Regions from separate parts of the Homo sapiens genome. Here region 2 is linked to region 1. Evidence: fine-mapped expression QTL. A gene starts in region 1. The other region holds a variant in brackets. All regions are shown on one strand. Distances are between the middles of the regions. Region 1 holds the start of KLF6 (KLF transcription factor 6). Region 2 overlaps LOC105376360 (a long non-coding RNA gene).

Region 1 (9,038 bases):
CGCATTCAGGAAAAAGAATGAAAAAATGAAATGGAGCATCTGAAATCTGTGGAACAATATATCCAACTGTTTAGCACGTGTGCAATTGGAGTCCCAGAAAGAGAACAGAAAGAGAATGGGACAGAAGACATATTTGAAGTTACAGTGATCAAGAACTTTCCAAGATTTAATGAAATACAATAAACCACAGATACAAGACCTCAGTAAACCACACAGGGATAGGTTTAGTACCTTTTTGAAAATTTTTTTTTAAAAGTGTATAAGAATGATGGTATTTCTGAGCTCTATATTCTGTTATATTGATTTAACTGTATCAAAGCCAATGTCACACAATCACGTTCAATTTTGCTTTAAGTCTTGAAACACATAATATAAAACTTTCAACCTTCAGGACTGGTTTAGGTATAGCTCTCTTCAGCATTTCCTATACATTTTTAAATCAGCAGGACAACTTCAACAAAAAAGCCTGCTGAGATTTTGATGGGAAGTGTGTGGAATGCACAGACCACCTTGTAAAGAATGGGTATCTTAACCACACACGTGGTATAGCTTGTACCTGTGGATATTTCACAGGGAGCTCCTTCTGGAGGCCCTATTGTGAACTGAGCTTTACAGCTGTCCCATTTTACAATTATATTTTAAAAGAGGGCTACTAAAACAAAGGTCTTAGATAGACAGAAGTTCTCCCCGACCAATGCCCCAGAGGTATCCTGTCATTGTACTTATTACCTTGCCTATGTTGACAGTAAAATTCAACATCTTTTGAAAACTATCAATAGGGCATTTTCCTTCATTATTCTAAGCAAAAATGGTTAAAAAGTGAATCTACTACACCTTACATGTTATGTAAAAACGCTAGGGAGAGAAAAGGCAACTCACTATTTAGATAGAACTATCTGCAAATGAGATAATTGAGAAATGAACATCACAGGGCCAGGCGCAGTGGCTCATGCCTGTAATCAAGCAATTTGAGAGGCAGAGGCAGCCGATCACTTGAGGTCAGGAGTTCAAGAACAGCATGGCCAACATGGTAAAACCCCATCTCCACTAAAAACACAAAAATTAGCCAGGCGTGGTGGTGCATTCCTGGAATCCCAGCTACTTGGGAGGCTGAGGAAGGAGAATTGCTTGAACCCAGGAGGCAGACGTTGCAGTGAGCCAAGATTGTGCCACTACACTCTAGCCTGGGCAACAGAGGGAGACTCCATCTCAAAAAAAAAGGAACATTTTACACTTACATAGGCTCTATCATGTAAATATTCAGAAGTACTTTCTTAACAATTATATTTTGCACACCCAAAATAAACAGATGAAATAAAAGGGTAGTTTGCTCCAAAACAGGCAATATATTGGTACAGACACCAAAACCAAAACAAAACAGAACAACAAAATTGGCTTCTTGCCCCAAAATTGGAGCATTCTCTGTCAATATAATTAGGGGGCATTATTGGAATTATCCTCAGAACAGATTTGTAAGACTTCCCCCAAGAGCCCGTCTTGAATGATCTAGAACAGGAAGATCAAATGTACTCAATACCAACATGTTATCCCATTAATCTTTAAATTAAATTTAAAATTAGGTTTCAAATGTATACTTTTATTTTTGAGAGGCAACAAAGAGAGCTTCCTGGTATGAAATAAATGAGCACAGCCTGGAGGTCTAAGAGGAGAAGAAAAACAGTGGAGGAGGGCATGGAGGCCTAAGTGGGGACTGAGGAAGTAACAGCGGGGTGCCAGGGGGGTGAAGTGGCCCCCAGGAACGTCGAAAGGAGCCTACGACTGTCACCCAGAAGGGATCTTGACCTTTTGAAGATAGTGGCAGAGACAGGAGTGGCTCAAGGTGAGCAGAGAACAAGGGTCACGTCCAACAAATGGAGCTGATTATTTTCTCTCCAAGACTGCGAGAGTGAAAACAGAGCAGGGCTCTTCAGCGACCGGCAGGAGAAGGAAGCACCTGTGGGATTATTGGACAAGTCGAGGTCCAACTCTTGTCTCTGATTTGCTTTGTGGCCTGCAAAGTTGACTTCATTTTTCTGTCTGCATTCACTCATATGTTAAAAGAAGGGTGGGGGATTATAAAATAATTACCAAGAGCAAACTTACAAATGGCTAAATGGTGAATAAGTGAACACTGCCTTCAATTTATTGAATCACTACTATTTGCTACCAAGCAGGAATTTTAATCCATTAACTCTTCTGATTATACTAAACTCATTCTAATAGTCATTTTAATCTCCTATTTAAATAACGTGACCAGGGCCATGCGCACAGCATGGACAACTAAAGTGTAAAATCCATCATCTTTTTATATCCTGCCATACTTCCCCCTTCTGAATTAATCTGGCCCTCTACGATTCTTTGTTGCTCTTCTTAAAAAAATCAGGCGCAACTATTAGTGTTCAGATGCGATGCATATTCTTTGTCACATCAAAGAAAATGATATTTTTTCACCAACTGGTTACATGCTTACTCGTAATAAGGACTTTTGTTTTCAAACATCTACATACTCCTGGCAGCCCACCTCTCCCACACCGTAATAGGGATTTGTGCCTGTTTTGTAAATTTCTGTGTACCAATACCTGGCCATTCATAGGGTGTGAGTAATGTGTGTTCAATGGTCAATGAGCGCAGCAGGATGCCATAGGATCTATTCTATTTGAAATTTAGTGTTCATATGTACCCTGTTTTCAAATCTTTTTTTTTTCTGAAAATGACAATGGCCATTGTACTGTATCTGCATTATGACTAATCAGGTTCCCTCTTGTAAAAATAAACTATATAATCTTCATAGTGCCGGGCAAAGCATGTTAAGAGACAAGGATGAATTTAAGTTCTATAGGAATGTGGATTTATTAAAAAACATTAAGACAATAATTAATTGTCCCAAAGATAAAATGGGACACCCTCACCAGGACGCCCACACGCCTTGCAAAGACAGCCGTCCTGTCCTCCCTGGCCCAGACAGAGCCTTCCCCCTTCATCTCGGGCTCCCCCTGATCCAGCGTGCCTGGCCCTCAGCGGGGGACTTGCTCCACACTCCTGCTTACTTAGGAACTAGCGGGGCCAAGGTCACAAGCGCTAATTACTGAGAGAACCCTGCCCCCAACACAACGGCTGCCCAGATGCTCTCGGCTGCCAGTCACTGGGCCCCGGTCAATGGGCGCTTGGGCAAATCTGTGGATGGTTCAAAACAAAGCCATTTGCATTCCTGGAAACAGAGTTAAGGTGCAGGTCCCCAAGAAGGGCTGGTCCTGGCTCTCAGTTGCTGGGGTAAATGTGATGAACACGAGCCAAGAACACTGTCAATTCACTCTGCATAACCTTCACCGCCCACATACCGCAGGTACAAGACAAACCTCCTTTCTCCACTCCAGACTCACTAAGGTCCCCACCTAGTCTTACAGCCACATGCTTCTGCCGGACCCTCTAAAACTTAACATACAAAACCCTCTAATTTTTTTTTACATAGTCCATTCTTTCAAAATGTTTAATGTTCATTAAACTATTTTGAAACAAAAACTATAATACAGTTACAATTCAGTTTTCCATTTTGGATTTTAAAATGCTCTGGTTCGAGTCTCGACATTTTTCTTAAAAATGAACATTACGGTATATTTTAGGAGATAATTTATATGGAAAAAAACACACACACTAAATGTCGGCTTGCACCTAAATTGTTTACACGTTCATGGGAAAACCTAGCTGTTAACCTTGGTGAGGGCTAAGATCGCCCTCTACAAGATAAACACGTTTCTCCCAATTCCAAGGGGAGCCTGCGTGCTCCCCTCCCCCACTCTGGTGGCCCGGAGGACAGAGGGGACCCTAGGACTGGAGGGGGACGGAGACGGGCTCAGGGATGGAGGGGGACAGAGAGGGACCCGGAGGTGGAGGAGGACAGAGAGGGGTACCCCAAGGTTAGAGAACAGAGGATGACTAGGGGGATGTAGGGAAACAGAGCGGCGCAGAAGAGGACAGTTGGGGACGGGGCGGCCCCGGGCATAGAAGGGGACAGTTGGCGACCGGGAAGCCCCCGGCGTAGAAGGGGACAGTTGGGGACGGGGCGGCCTCGGGCATAGAAGGGGACGGGGGGGAACCGGGCGGCCCCGGGACCGGACGGCCGCCCGCAGGGTGAGCTGCCGGAACCGGGGCTCGCGCGGCGACAGGGCCCGGCTTGGTGACCGGGACGGGCGTGGGGTGGCGGGACCGGGCAGCGGGGAAGAGAGACCGGGACTGGGGACAGGCGACGCGGCCCGCCCCGGCTCTCCCAGCCCCGGCTCCCTTAGCTCCGGCCGCGGGCGCAGTGCAGGGCTCGGCCGCGCACCTCACAGCGCGGACTCCTCCGGCGCGCGGCCGCCCGCGCCTTATATACCCTGCTAAAAATAGCCTGCGAGGCCACTTTCCAATCAGAACGAGCAGAGTTCGAATTGAGCCAATGGTGCGGGCCGTGATGGAGAGTCTCGGTCACGCCAGGCGGGGCCGCTGTGTGTCGCCGCCTGCGATTGGCCGGAGCTGACATCATCGGCGCGCAGCCCCCGGGCCGGGAGCCACGGGATTGGGCCGCGCACGGGGCGGGCGCGGGGCGAGTCACGTGGGGGGAGGGGGAGTGGGGGGAGCCAGGCGGGGGCGGAGGGGGAGGCTGGCAGCGGAGCTTTGAATAGGGAAGTTTTGCAGGGGTTACGTTTGCAGTCAGTCCGGTGTTTGCAAATATTGTGTGGGCTCCGCGCGCTGCGGGCTGCGGGAGGGTCCGGCCGGGCGTCTCTGCGAGCCTGGAGTTTGCATGAAACTTTCACCTGCGCTCCGGGGAGACTTTCGGCTCCGGCTCCCACCGCGCGCCTCGCCGCCCTCGCGACCGCGGGCTCCGTCCAACCCGGCCCGACATGGACGTGCTCCCCATGTGCAGCATCTTCCAGGAGCTCCAGATCGTGCACGAGACCGGCTACTTCTCGGCGCTGCCGTCTCTGGAGGAGTACTGGCAACAGGTAAACGCAGCCGGCCGCGGTTCCCTGCGGGCGCCGGGGCGCGGGCCGGGTCGGCTGTTTGGGGTTCAGACCCGGTGCTCTCTGCGGTCCGCTGGGCCTGGGCCCCGCGCTGTCACCGGGGGAGCGGGCGCAGCGCCCCCGCCGATCGATCCTCCAGGCTGCGATCAGCGTCCGCCCAGGGAAGCCCCAACTCCCGGCACAGCCCGGCCGAGCCCCTGGCACGAGTTCGGAGCCTGTCCCCGCTCCAGACGCCACAGCTGGAGCTTGTCATGGGGACCAACTTGCTCTGCCTGCCAAGGTGTTTTTTTTTTGTTTGTTTGTTTTTTGTTGTTTTTTTTTAACGGATTTTGTTTTTGTTTTGTTTCTTGGTGCTTGTACTTAACAGTTTTTTAAAAAAATCACATTTTGCCCCCAGAACGTAGACCAGCTCTCTTTTATTTTTGTCTTTTTTAAACTGTAGACCATTTCCAATGTGTTTTCTGCTCTTTGGAATGCCTAACATTTCCCCTAGATCTGCCTTATTTGTCTTCCCTGCTTCTCTTGTTGACCAAGAAAAATAAAAATAAAACTGTGTACACCCCAGTGACTTGTCAGTCTTGTGACAATGAGCCCGTCCAAACTGCTTCAAGTCTTAGTTTGGAAAGAAGGACCTCGGTTTCCGACATTGTCGTAGAACTGGAATTTGGGGGCATTGGAAATTTAAGAAACTTACCAGGTCCCCGTGCTTATAGGTAGCATCGCCCGAGGGGAGAGAGACTGACACTCCTCCCATTGTCTCTCCAGCGATCGCAGGAGGGTTTACTGTTGTCTCCCTGCCCTGCTGTGCTGTTTGTTTTTCGTCACAAAGTGAATTGCCAGATCAAATAGAGGCTGTGGGTTTCCAAGCCTCGAAAGCTTTAAGGAAGATGAAATGCAGGGTGTTGCAACCTTCACACGCCTGCTTAATTGTTCACAGTCCTCTCCTGCCTTTTCCCCCTCCCCCTCCTGTTTTTTTCCTCCTCAAAGAAGCTGCTCCCTAGGACGTGATTGAAATTGATCTAAGTAGTTTCCTTCGGGCGTTTGGGATTTGGGCAAACGGCCAGACCTGGCTCTTGGTCGCCTTTGGAGGCTTTTAAACTCTCCGAGAGCTTCGTTCAGGTCCCGGGTGCTCATCAGCGTAATGGAGATTTTAAATTGGCCGGATTATTAAAGTTTAACAAGATCTCCATAAATGTGCTTTTCTTTTTTCTTTGTTAAATCAATAAAATACATCGCTGCTGCCTCTCTTCAGAACGCTGTAGTGTGCATTGTAACTCAGACGCCTGGTTTCGGGGGAAAGGGGAAAGCATGATTCTCCCGTGTGCTTGCTCCCACCGGCTGTGTGCGAGCCTGGGGAGGGGGAGGGATTGCCTGTGGCAGGAGAGAGGCACACTGCTAAGTCAGCCTGAGCCCCTGGGGTAGGCTGCGCTCAGGAAGGTCCCTGCCCGGAAAAATGACGTGCTCACCAGAGCCGTTTGGTGTAGAAACTGAAATCTGTAGAATTGCCAGTAGTATAGACAACCTTATATGGACATGCAGGCAGCTGATCCTCGTGAAAATCAGGGCAGACATAATTTAATCCTAAAATGTTTCCTACCATTTTTCTTTTCCAGTGGCTAGAAAGTTTGAAATGGTGGGGAGAGGGGATGCTGATCTCGGCAGTTGTAGCTTCTTGAAAGGTTGGTTGCGGGGCTGGGGAAGGGGTACTGTCCATGCCACACTGCATGTCCATTTGAGCTGGGTCCTTATTTGGCTGCTGATGAGAATTTCAAAAGGAAGTCTCCTTTGGCATTGCGTGAAAGAAATCAGAGTGATGACTCATGCAGTTGTACTCTTGGCCAGTAGATAAAGTTCTTGTTCATTGTGGGACTCCCAGCAGGGCCGTGGAGTAATTTCCCCTTGCACCCTTCACAATAGCAGATGGCCATGCTGGAATTATTTCTGCACTCCTGTTGTTGAAGTTCCTTGTTTTTCTCTGACCACTGTAGAAGTAATTAAAGTTCTGTGTCATGCAAGGGCCTGCACTTGGGAACGGCATTCTGTGAAAACATAGGCGGTCTGGGCTACACAGGAAATGGGTGGTTTTTCTGCAGCTCCATTCGATGCCCCTGAATACAGACAGCTGCTGTCTCCTCTCCCCCGAGTGTGGCCCTGTGTTGTCAGCCGTGTCCCCAAGGGGGTCCCTCAGAACACGCTGTGTGCCGTGCAGTCTTTCTGTCCTGTGTGGGTATCTGTGGAGTGTGAAGGGTGGATGGCTGGGGCTTTCCTTAAAACACATGGTTCTTGACAATGTCAGATAATCTGGTTGAACCTGTTGGGGAGGAGTATGTGTATGGGGCCGGTTCTCTTCCTCTGGTTTCATGAGAAACATCAACACTGGTAACTACAACAAAAAAACCGGCTTAGTGATCATCACTCATTGTGGCCCTTGGCCCAACATTGGGAAAGCCAGGAGAGGTTTCACCCTCCGACTTTTCCTCTGAATTCTTACCATTCTAGAAACAGATTTCCTCTAACTTCCGTAAGGACACGGATGCTTAATTACAAAAGGTTTTGCCCCTGTAGTGACCGGGCAGCAATGTTATCTGTCCTTCATTCTTGCATGTTTTTGGAAATTGCTTTTGCTTTTACTTTTGGTCGTCATGGCAATCACGTGCCTTCTCTGGTTCATTTTGCACAGACCTGCCTAGAGCTGGAACGTTACCTCCAGAGCGAGCCCTGCTATGTTTCAGCCTCAGAAATCAAATTTGACAGCCAGGAAGATCTGTGGACCAAAATCATTCTGGCTCGGGAGAAAAAGGAGGAATCCGAACTGAAGATATCTTCCAGTCCTCCAGAGGACACTCTCATCAGCCCGAGCTTTTGTTACAACTTAGAGACCAACAGCCTGAACTCAGATGTCAGCAGCGAATCCTCTGACAGCTCCGAGGAACTTTCTCCCACGGCCAAGTTTACCTCCGACCCCATTGGCGAAGTTTTGGTCAGCTCGGGAAAATTGAGCTCCTCTGTCACCTCCACGCCTCCATCTTCTCCGGAACTGAGCAGGGAACCTTCTCAACTGTGGGGTTGCGTGCCCGGGGAGCTGCCCTCGCCAGGGAAGGTGCGCAGCGGGACTTCGGGGAAGCCAGGTGACAAGGGAAATGGCGATGCCTCCCCCGACGGCAGGAGGAGGGTGCACCGGTGCCACTTTAACGGCTGCAGGAAAGTTTACACCAAAAGCTCCCACTTGAAAGCACACCAGCGGACGCACACAGGTCAGTGCCCACGCGGGCCCCGGAGGGCGGCCGCTGGTGGGCGCCACTGCATTGCACCAGCCCTGGAGGGAGCCGGGCCTGGCTGCACAGGATGTGGTCAGGGCAGACAAATCCTCACTTCCTCAGATGTTTTCCACCAAAGCATTAGGTCTTTTTGGAGTTCAGAGTAGAATCCTAAAGACTGGACTTTTGAGTTGGATAAATGTGTAACAATTTTCAGATTAAACAAACAAGAGACTAGATCCTTTTCTCCACGGACACCCAAACCTCCACCCCCCACCCCTTAGTAGTGCTGGGGATCCGAGGCCACTGCCCCTTCACCAGTGCACTCGCACGAGGCTACCTCGAGCGGCCCTGGGGTTTCCTAAATGAAACTCAAGGGTCAGGACAGAGGGTTGCTGGGCAGCGTGGAGTGTGTGGGTTTGATGCTGACGGCCCGAGGCCCGAGTGGGACCGGCCTGCTCTGTAAGCAGCAGCATTGATCAGCGAGTGTTTCCTGAGAACTTCTCCGTGTCTCATGCAGCCTTTGTTTCTGATACCGCTTGAAACAGTTTCTTAATGAAATGCCATACCTAGGTGAAAGTGCTATTTAAAAATACCTTGACATGTTCTAGGATAATTGGTGAGGAATCACAGAACATTTAGAACTGGGAAGGGTCTTAGTGATCACGTGATGCAGGCTCTTCTCTTATCAGTAGGAGAGCAAATTGCTGAGAGTCAGTCCCAGACAGGCTTGGTGACAGCTGAGATTGAGATCCGGGTGGCCCAATATCCAGGCCCAGGCCTG
Region 2 (9,038 bases), 120 kb after region 1:
CTGTTTTCTATTGATATGGTGAAATACACTAATTTTTGACAAATGAACCAACCTTGCATTGTTGGGATTAATCCCACTTGGTCATGAGGGATTGTCTTTTTTTACATATTATTGGATTTGATTTGCAAATATTTTATGAATAAATTTTCAGGTACATTGTAAGGAATATTAATCAATGGCATTTCTATCTTCTTTATCTAATCTTTTTATAAAGATAATTAATTAATAAAATAGGTTCAAAAGTAATCCCCTTTACAAGATTTTCCACAACTTTTTGAAAGAGCTTACATAAAACTGGTATTGTTTCTTCTCAAAGTTTTTACAGAACCCACTGATAAATCAATCTAGGTCTGGACTCTTCTTCATCAAAAATTTTAAATTAAGAAGCCAATTTAAAAAATAAATCTAGAGCTAGTCATAGTTTCTATTACTTCTTGTGTCAGTTTTTGATAACGTGTCTTTCAAGTAATTTCTCAATTTTATCTAAAATTGTTGAATCTATTGGCATAATGCCTACATATTTCTTTGTATTTCTTCTAGGTATATTAAGTAGTTATGTTATTGTAGTTTGCAACAGATCACTAACTTCTTGACAAAAGGAAAGGGTGAAGAAACTTACAGATTCAGATTTTATTTTATTTTTTTGAGATGGAGTCTCACTCTGTCACCCAGGCTGGCGTGCAGTGGTGCGATCTCGGCTCACTGCAAACTCCGCCTCCTGGGTTCAGGCCATTCTCCTGCCTCAGCCTCCCAAGTAGCTGGGACTACAGGCGCCTGCCGTCAAGCCCAGCTAATTTTTTTGTATTTAAAGTAGAGACGGGGTTTCACCATGTTAGCCAGGATGGTCTCGACCTCCTGACCTCATGATCCACCTACCTCAGCCTCCCAAAGTGCTGGGATTACAGGCGTGAGCCACTGTGCCTGGCCTAGATTCAGATTTTAAAAGAAATTACCAGTTAAAAGTCAATTTGAAATTTTCATTTCTGAAAATTGTTTGTAAATCAATTAAATAAATAGGATTCAGGCTGGGCATGGTGGCTCACGCCTGTAATTCCAGCACTTTGGGAGGCCGAGATGGGTGGATCACTTGAGGCTAAGAGTTTGAGACCAGCCTGGGCAACATAGTGAAACCTCATCTCTACTAAAAATACAAAAATTAGCCAGATGTGGTGGCAGGTGCCTGTAATCTTAGCTACTCAGGAGGCTGAGGCAGGAGAATTGCTTGAACCCGGGAGATGGAGCTTGTGATAAGCTGGGATCGCAGCACTGCACTCCAGCCTGGGTGACAGAGCAAGACTCTGTCTCAAATAAAAATTAAAAAAAAATAGGATTTTGTTTGCAAGAAGTTTTGTGAAGATAAAAAAAGACAGTGAAGAAGGACACTGCAGGACGGATGCTGCATTCCGGGAAACAGCCTGAGTCGCAGAAGCTGGTTGCATGGTCTGCTCACCAGTTTAACTGAATTACAGGAATCTGGTGTAGTGCTAGTGGGAGACAGTGCCAAAAAGAAAGACGTGAATCAGACATAGAAAGCTGCAGTGACCAGGCCAGAGCATCAGAGCAAACTCCACCATCAGTGAGGACCTCTGCAGGCAGTGGTTATGCCTTGGGGACAGTGATAATTTGTTCTATAGATACAGAACCATACGCATTTTGTAGGACAGTGTGCCCCAAATAGTGGTGTGCCCAGAGATTAATTCAATGGCATCTAAATGCATATTTTTATTTTAATATTTATGTGTTCACTTTAGTGGATACAATAAATACACAACATACACACAAATCATGCTATTTAAAGAAAAAAATTGATTCATGTATAGCACCAATAATGAACAAGTATGGCTAAAAGAGAAAATCATGATGGTGACAAGAAGACGGCACTTCAGGGGCTTGAGTGCACTGACTTTCAGCTACTCCCCAGGAATCAGAGCAATAGTAAAAATGGCTAATATTCACATAAACCTTGCTGTGCATTAGAGACTCGTAGCGGTTCTCACTACAGTCCTATTTGGTAGATGCCACTGTTACCATCTCACAGGTCGGATGCCAGGGAGCAGCGAGGTGAGGGAACCAGCCCTGCAGCCAGCGTGCTCAGGGGCCACGCGTTCAATGACGATTGCTTAACTGCTTTGAATTCCACCCTCCCGAGGTCCCTCCACCACCTCTTCAAGAGGGGAGGAGCTTCTTCCCTTGGATGTTCCCTTCAGAGAAGTCTCTACTTACAGAGCTTTTCTGATTTGTGGGGGGTTTCATGAAAGTGAAATAAATTACAAAACTGGTCTGGAATCTCTTCTTACAGCGCCGTTGTAATCTCTGTGCCAGTAATCCCTTCCCTAAAGGGCCCAGATTATAAATATTGCTCCATGGCACAGCAGGGAACTTCCCTCTAATTTACTGAACTTCCTCTGTCTTTTCTCCTTTCGAGCATTCTTTGTACAGAATCATGTTAAGTACAACAAATAATACAAAATAACAGTGTTGTCCACAGCTACAATGTAAAACCAATTTCTCTGCTCCACCCCACGGTCCTTATCATTCCCATGCCCATGGCACCCAGTGCCATGTACTTGCTGCTTTAAAAGGGCATCACATTGTCCATGGGAGCTACGGATGCTGGAGGTATTCCTGTCCCAGCTCTGGATGAGAATGTTTCTGGGAGTCCGTCCAGCCCTGAGTCCCCCAGACCCCCAGATAGTTCTCCAGAGACAGCCTCTCAGGAGTGCCCTGGCTGTCCTGGGCCTCAACTGCCTGGCTAGGGCCATGATCCAGGTGGACACCTAAGCCATTGTGAGCCAGTGGATCTTCTGTCCTAGAAATCAGGAATCAGCACTGGGTGACTTGGCGTCCTGCACTAGGGCACGTGCAGGCCCTGCTGTGCCACAGGGTGAGCTGTACGATGGGCAAGTCTACGTATGACGTTGACTGATTTGGTGGGAGCATTGGGACAGCAGGGAGAAGGGGACACCAGCTGTAGAGAGAGAGAATAATCTTCAAAACCCCGACAGATTTCCATGTCCCAGTTCCATCTCCTTTGCATCCCCCAGTAAATACCCTTTATTTTTACTTAAGCTGCTCCTTCTTGGCCCCATTGACCCCGTGAGCAGCCACTCCCCGATGGACACCCTAAGCCTTGTGCTCTCTGGGGATAGTGAGTGAATTTTCTACGTTTCATCTTACTGAGACTGGCCGGCAGGTCCCTGACCTCTGGCAAATTCTGCTGCAATGATTATTCTGACTCAGTTTGTTGGTAAAACTGCCTTTTGGTAAGGGAGGGGAAAACATCACAATCCAGATCTCCTTTCTTCCTCTCAACTCCTGCGCAATGTCGTGTTGTCTTTTCTAACTTTTTTCTGCCTGCAACACATTTCATGTGTCCATTCATTTGTTCCTTACTTCCTTTCTTTATTTACACATTCGACAAATACTGATCATATGCCCACTACGTGTTGTTCCAGGGGCATGGGGGATCCACCGAGAACGAAACAAGTGCAAGCCTCTGCCTGGTGGAGTTTGCGTTCTTGTTTGGGGAAACTGACCAAATACAGAAGTCATGAGGAGCAGCCTGTTAGAAGGTGAATGGTGCTGCGGAGGAAAGGAACAGCAGGAAGAAGGACGGAGAGCGGGAGACAGGAGGTGAGGAGGTGGAGAGGCAAGTTACGCAGATACACAGCAAGAGTGCTCCAGGCAGGAGGGGCCCCTGTGAAGGCTGCAGAGCTTGAAGACACACAAGGAGGTGGCTGGATCCAGAAGAGCAGGAGGAGATGTTGTCAGAGGGACGGAGTGGTGGGTTTGTGGGGCATCTGAAGGCCAGTGGGAGGACTTTGGCTTTTGCCCCCAGAGACATGAGGAGGCCTTTGGGAGCGTGGAATAGCAGAGACACATCTGAATCATACTTTCTCTCTTCACTCTGACTGTCATGCGAAGAAGGGGGGTTGGGGTTGAAGGCTACAGAGGGGTGAGGTGAGGAGGTCACGGTGTGCCGGGTGACCCCTCCCAGGGAGGCGGCAGCAAAGGCGCCAAGACCTAGGACTCTGGGTCCTTGTTGCAGGCATATCTAGAGGGATGATTGTGACGGCAAGAAGGCAAGGCTGGCAGGGAGAACACGTCCAACCTCATATCCCCTCTGTGATGGTGTGAAAAGGTCAGACCAGCGATAGGCTTGGGCGCCATATCAGTGTCTTCCTCTAGTAAATAACGGAGACAGCGGCAAGCAGTTCCATGTGCATGTGGTTCTTAGCACCCACATACCTAACCTGACTTTTCATGTATTTATTTTTGTTGAGACAGAATTTCGCTCTGGTTACCCAGGCTGGAGTGCAATGATGCGATCTCAGCTCACTGCAACCTCTGCCTCCTGGGTTCAAGTGATTCTCCTGCCTCAGCCTCCCGAGTAGCTGGGATTACAGGTGCCCGCCACCACACGCGGCTAGTGTTGTATTTTTAGTAGAGACGGGATTTCACCGTGTTGGCCAGGCTGGTTTGATTCTCACTTTGATTTATTTGAGGAAGCTTGTATTATCATTCCAATTTAGAGATGAAGAAACGGGGAAAAGAGTTTAGTTGAGTTGCCCAAGGGGACATAATTTGGATATGATGTCACAATTTAAACCCAATGTGAGGAGCATCTTGCAGAGTTGCTGTGAATAGCGAAGAAAAATGCAAGCGACTTCAGGGTTTGAAAATATTATATGAGTTTGTACGAAGATGTGCTATTTACAAAACACGCTTGTTTCTCAAGCCTTATTTAGCAATGCTAGGTATGT[T/C]TTTTTCTGATAGCAGTAAGAACAGGAAGGAACAGATGAACAAAGAGACCACAGGCACATTTGATGTGTAGTATTTCCATCTTTGGGGATGTTACAGCTATGTGACTATCTATTTAATTCTACATTAACATAACTTTATTTGACTCAGAAAATCAATAGACTATTTTTCCAGGCTGCAGTTTGGCAACAACCTATGGCCTGAGAATCGAATGACTTAAGATCCATCCTGGCTTCCCCGCCGGCTGAAGTGCAGCCTCTGGGCAGGCGACCCGCAGAGTTAGAGCCATCTGAGTCCCGGGCCAGCCTCACCTCCAGAAGGTGATGCCTGCTCTTTGTTTTCAGACCACACAACACACACAGGGGCGGGGCTTTGCAGAGCGCTCTGGCCTCCAACACGTATCACCTATACGCTAAACAGTTACTTTTCCTGTATTGTGTAACTTACCCAGAAACTTGCGTTCAGCAAGCCTCCGGGGATAAAAATACAATCCTACCGTGTAAAAATATCCTTTCTTCTCGGATTTTCTCTACCCCTTCTAGAGTTTCCCCCAGGGCAGATGCAAGGGGGCACTCTCCTGGGCCTCAGCCTGCCTGGTCTCCCTGAACTGAAGCCTGCTCGACAACAGTACGGGATTGCACAACACCCCCGCTCAGCTCCAGCCCCCGATCTGGAAGCTGCTGAAGAGAGAGATACCTCGACTTTTATCTGATTCTCCAACTCTCCGCATTCCAGAAAAGCAACTCAAGATCTAATTTGCTTAGTCATTTAGTTGAAACTGCAGTAAGAGAGGTGGCAGAGAAAGTGAAGCAGTAGCCAAATTAGATAAGGAAAAAAAAAAGTGAAAACATGTTTCGTTTTGTTTTTTTAAGATTCAAATAAAAACCATGATTTATTTATTTATTTATTTATTTTTTATTGCTCAGGATTAATTTCCCTGCTGTTTAAAATGTCCACAAAAGGCTGGGCACGGTGGCTCACGCCCGTAATCCCAGCACTTTGGGAGGCCAAGGTGGGTGGATCACGAGGTCAGGAGATCAAGACCAGTCTGGCCAACACGGTGAAACCTCGTCTCTACTAAAAATACAAAAATTAGCCGGGCATGGTGGTGGGTGCCTGTCATGGCAGGAGAATCACTTGAACCCGGGAAGCAAAGGTTCCAGTGAGCTGAGATGATGCCACCACACTCCAGCCTGGGTGACAGAGCGAGACTCCATCTCAGAAAAGAAAAATGTCCACAATATGCAGTTATGGGACAGAAATGACCCTGTCCACCTCTGTATTCATTCCTTCATTCTCCTTTCACTCGGAGGGCGAGTATAAAGTCCTCGCAGTACATGGTGCCCTGGAATAGAGACTGCATTTCCATGGAGATTTAGGGGAAAATGCCAATTAGTGTCTGAATCTTCTTATCACCGCTCAATGTAATGAAACGAAACAGGCATTCCCCAAGTGCCCATGGTACCTATGCAACGCCAACCCCTAGTTTGGGTAGAGCAGAAAAAATTCTGAGAACAGAAAAACCAAGTGTCTGTCCAAATGGTTTGTTATAAGAGAACAAACTTCACTTTCTGCCTCGACGACTTGTGGGCACGCAGAGAGGAGGCTACCAGGAATCTTCTGCTGTGGATTTTCACCTGAGCTGTAAGTGTGAGCACCTCCCTCCTTAGTGCTCGGACTTGGAACAATCAAACCTTGGGCTCTCCGGCATCACAGAGACAAGAAAAGCTTTTCTCTGTTGGGTAAATTATTAATCGTGGCACTGTATCCCCCTTGACATCAATAAAGTCACGACAATCAATTTGTCATGGTCCAGTGTGTGCTCATGACCGACTTGCCCTGTAATGTAGGTCAAACTTGGATTTGATGCTCTGATAACCAGAGACGTGGGATGAAAGTGGGGTTTCTCCTGGTCTGGCAGAACATGGCTTCCATGTCTGAAGCTTCCAGGAGGCAAAGCACATCGGCAGAGCAGGGAGCTCAGCCCTCGACGCGGGGCAGAAGAGCCACAATGCAGGAACTTACTATCCACAGTCACTACCACGCCGCTGTGGTTGCACCCAGGGAAGGAAGTGGAGAGAAAGGCACGGCTGGCTTGGAACTCCTGCTTCTGGTTCCGTTTTGCTGCATCAATAGGTGAAAAATAACTTTTTTTTTCCTCTAAGGAGAGAGTATCAGAATAGAAATAGTGTATCCTCCAAATATATTTCAGAAACAGGGAAAAAAGGAAAAATGCTTAATCAATTTCTCTTAAAAAAGAAAAAGAAAAAGAAAAAGAAGCAGCAGCCAGCAGGCAAGTGCGGTTAAGAGTGACTGAGCTGGCTTTTCCCCTCTGCCAGGCTGCCTACCTGTGTGGGTTGGAGCCAGCCCTGCAGTGCAAAGCTGGGTGGGCAGAGCCTACCTACTCCTTTTCAGCAGCAAGCCTTGTGAATGGCCCGGCCGGGGCAAATAAGCCAGGTGACTGTGGTGAAGCTTCCTGGGCATCCACCTGCCCCCATCTGCCGTGTTCCCTGCACTTTGAGGCTTCCAGGTGTACAGCTATTTGAAGCCACTCAGACACCAGGGTTTGCCTCCATCTGCCGTCCTGGGGAGACACTGGCTGCTCCTGACATGGGTGCTGGGTCTGCCTGGAACAGCCAGAGGCGTGGCCTCACCAGCATCCTCTGAGCTGGGTGAGCTGCAGGCAGGGACTCTTCTGCAGCCAGTCCCGAAAAGAGCAGGACACGCCTGTGGGAATGGCGCGGGTCTTCCACACCGAGTCTCTGTGCATTGTCCGAGACCACCTCCACGGGGGGAACGGCTCGGGAGTCAGGCATTGTCCGAGACCTCCTCCACGGGGGGAACGGCTCGGGAGTCAGCCAGACTGGGTTCAAGTCCGGGTCACCACTTAGCAACTGTGTGTTTTGGGCAGTTTATTTAATCCTGTGTGTCTCAGTGTCCTCATCCGTGAGACAGGCACCTTGATGTGCGCAAAGGTTAGTTGAGATAATATGAGAACTCCCAGGCTGAGGGTATTTCAGTGACCATGGCTGAATAATCAGCATCCAGGGGCCCAGAACTACAGGTCACAAACATGCACCGTATTCTGCTCACGGGTTCTGTAGCCAGGAGCTCCCGCACGCACAGAGCGACCACTTCTCTCTGGTCCTCAGGGTCTGGTGGCCCCAGGGCCAGGGCTGGAGTCTTCCGCAGGAAACTGCCCACCTCACTCATGGCTGCAGGATGCTGCTATTGTCTGGGACCTCAGCTCGGCTGCATCATGTCCCCCAAAATCCAAATCCATGTGCAGACGTCCTGTCCCCCAGTGCCTGAGAATGGGACTGTTTGGAGACGGGGGGCTTTAAAGAGGTGATTAAGGTGAGGTGAGGTCACTAGGGTGGACTCTAGTCCCATCTGGCTGGTGTCTTTGGAAGGAGAGATTAGGGCACAGACACAGGCAGAGGGGTGACCCTGTGAGGCCATGGCAAGAAGGCGGCCGTCTGAAGCTGCAGAGAGAGGCTTCCGGAGGAAGCAACTCTGAGGACACCTTTATCTTGGACTCCCAGACTCCAGAATTATGAGAATACAGGTTCCTATCTTTGAAGCCTCCCGGCCTGTGATGTGTTGCCGTGGCAGCCTGGCCGACTCTCACTGGGGGACACTGGGAGCGCCCTCTCCATGGCCTTGGCTCCCACTGGCTCGGTTCAAGAGGCCAAGTGATGTCTGCGTGGGGCGTCAGGGCCCACAGCTCACGTGCTGTCAACAAGGCAGACACTGCAGCATCTCTCACCTGCCTGGGGTAGCTCAGCCTCTCGTGCCACCATGACTGTGAGCCATGAGCCCTCCCAAATGCAAGGGGTGAGTGGTCCAAGGCTGCGTCTTGATGGGGGAGGGGGCGTTTCCAGAAGAGAATGTGGGACAGGGATGACTGAGGCCAGTTTCAGAAAACCGTGCCTGGCATGGAGGTTTATGTCATAAGCATTATTTATGACATAAGGCAAATAGACCACAGAGCCTTTTCCTCCCAGGCTGGGCGGTATCTGGGGATGCTCACTGCTCCGTAGTCGCCTCGGGGTCCATCCGTGTCATCACAATCGACAGGATTTCCTTCATTTCATGGCTGAAAAGTATTCACACACTTCTTCCTGGGCTCCAGCAGTGGTGGCACCTTGGCACCTCCCTTGAGAAAGGTTTAAGCTGCACCTCGGACCAGCTGCCTCATGCTGAGACTATGCTGGTCAGTGCTACCATCGGTGTGTGGCCACCTGATGCCAGTGGAAAGCCCTAGGAGCCCACAT

The links.
Region 2: its variant is fine-mapped to the expression of KLF6 in whole blood (TOPMed, PIP above 0.99).

Annotation. Positions count from the first base shown.
Region 1 is chr10:3,780,854-3,789,891 of GRCh38, reverse strand. It overlaps KLF6 (KLF transcription factor 6), which reads left to right and starts at 4,683. Exons shown (of 4, transcript NM_001300.6): 1 at 4,683-4,979; 2 at 7,678-8,251. The coding sequence starts at 4,878. RefSeq lists silencers at 3,774-3,833, 4,014-4,293, 4,544-5,143, a promoter at 3,945-4,882 and enhancers at 4,749-5,304, 5,305-5,861, 5,862-6,417, 6,486-6,555, 6,716-6,785 and 1 more.
Region 2 is chr10:3,664,878-3,673,915 of GRCh38, reverse strand. The region is part of intron 1 of LOC105376360 (a long non-coding RNA gene); the gene reads right to left. Among named protein-coding and RNA genes, the nearest start is that of KLF6, 120 kb to the left of the region's middle. RefSeq lists an enhancer at 5,072-5,573. The variant T/C (reference allele first, on the strand shown) is at 4,764.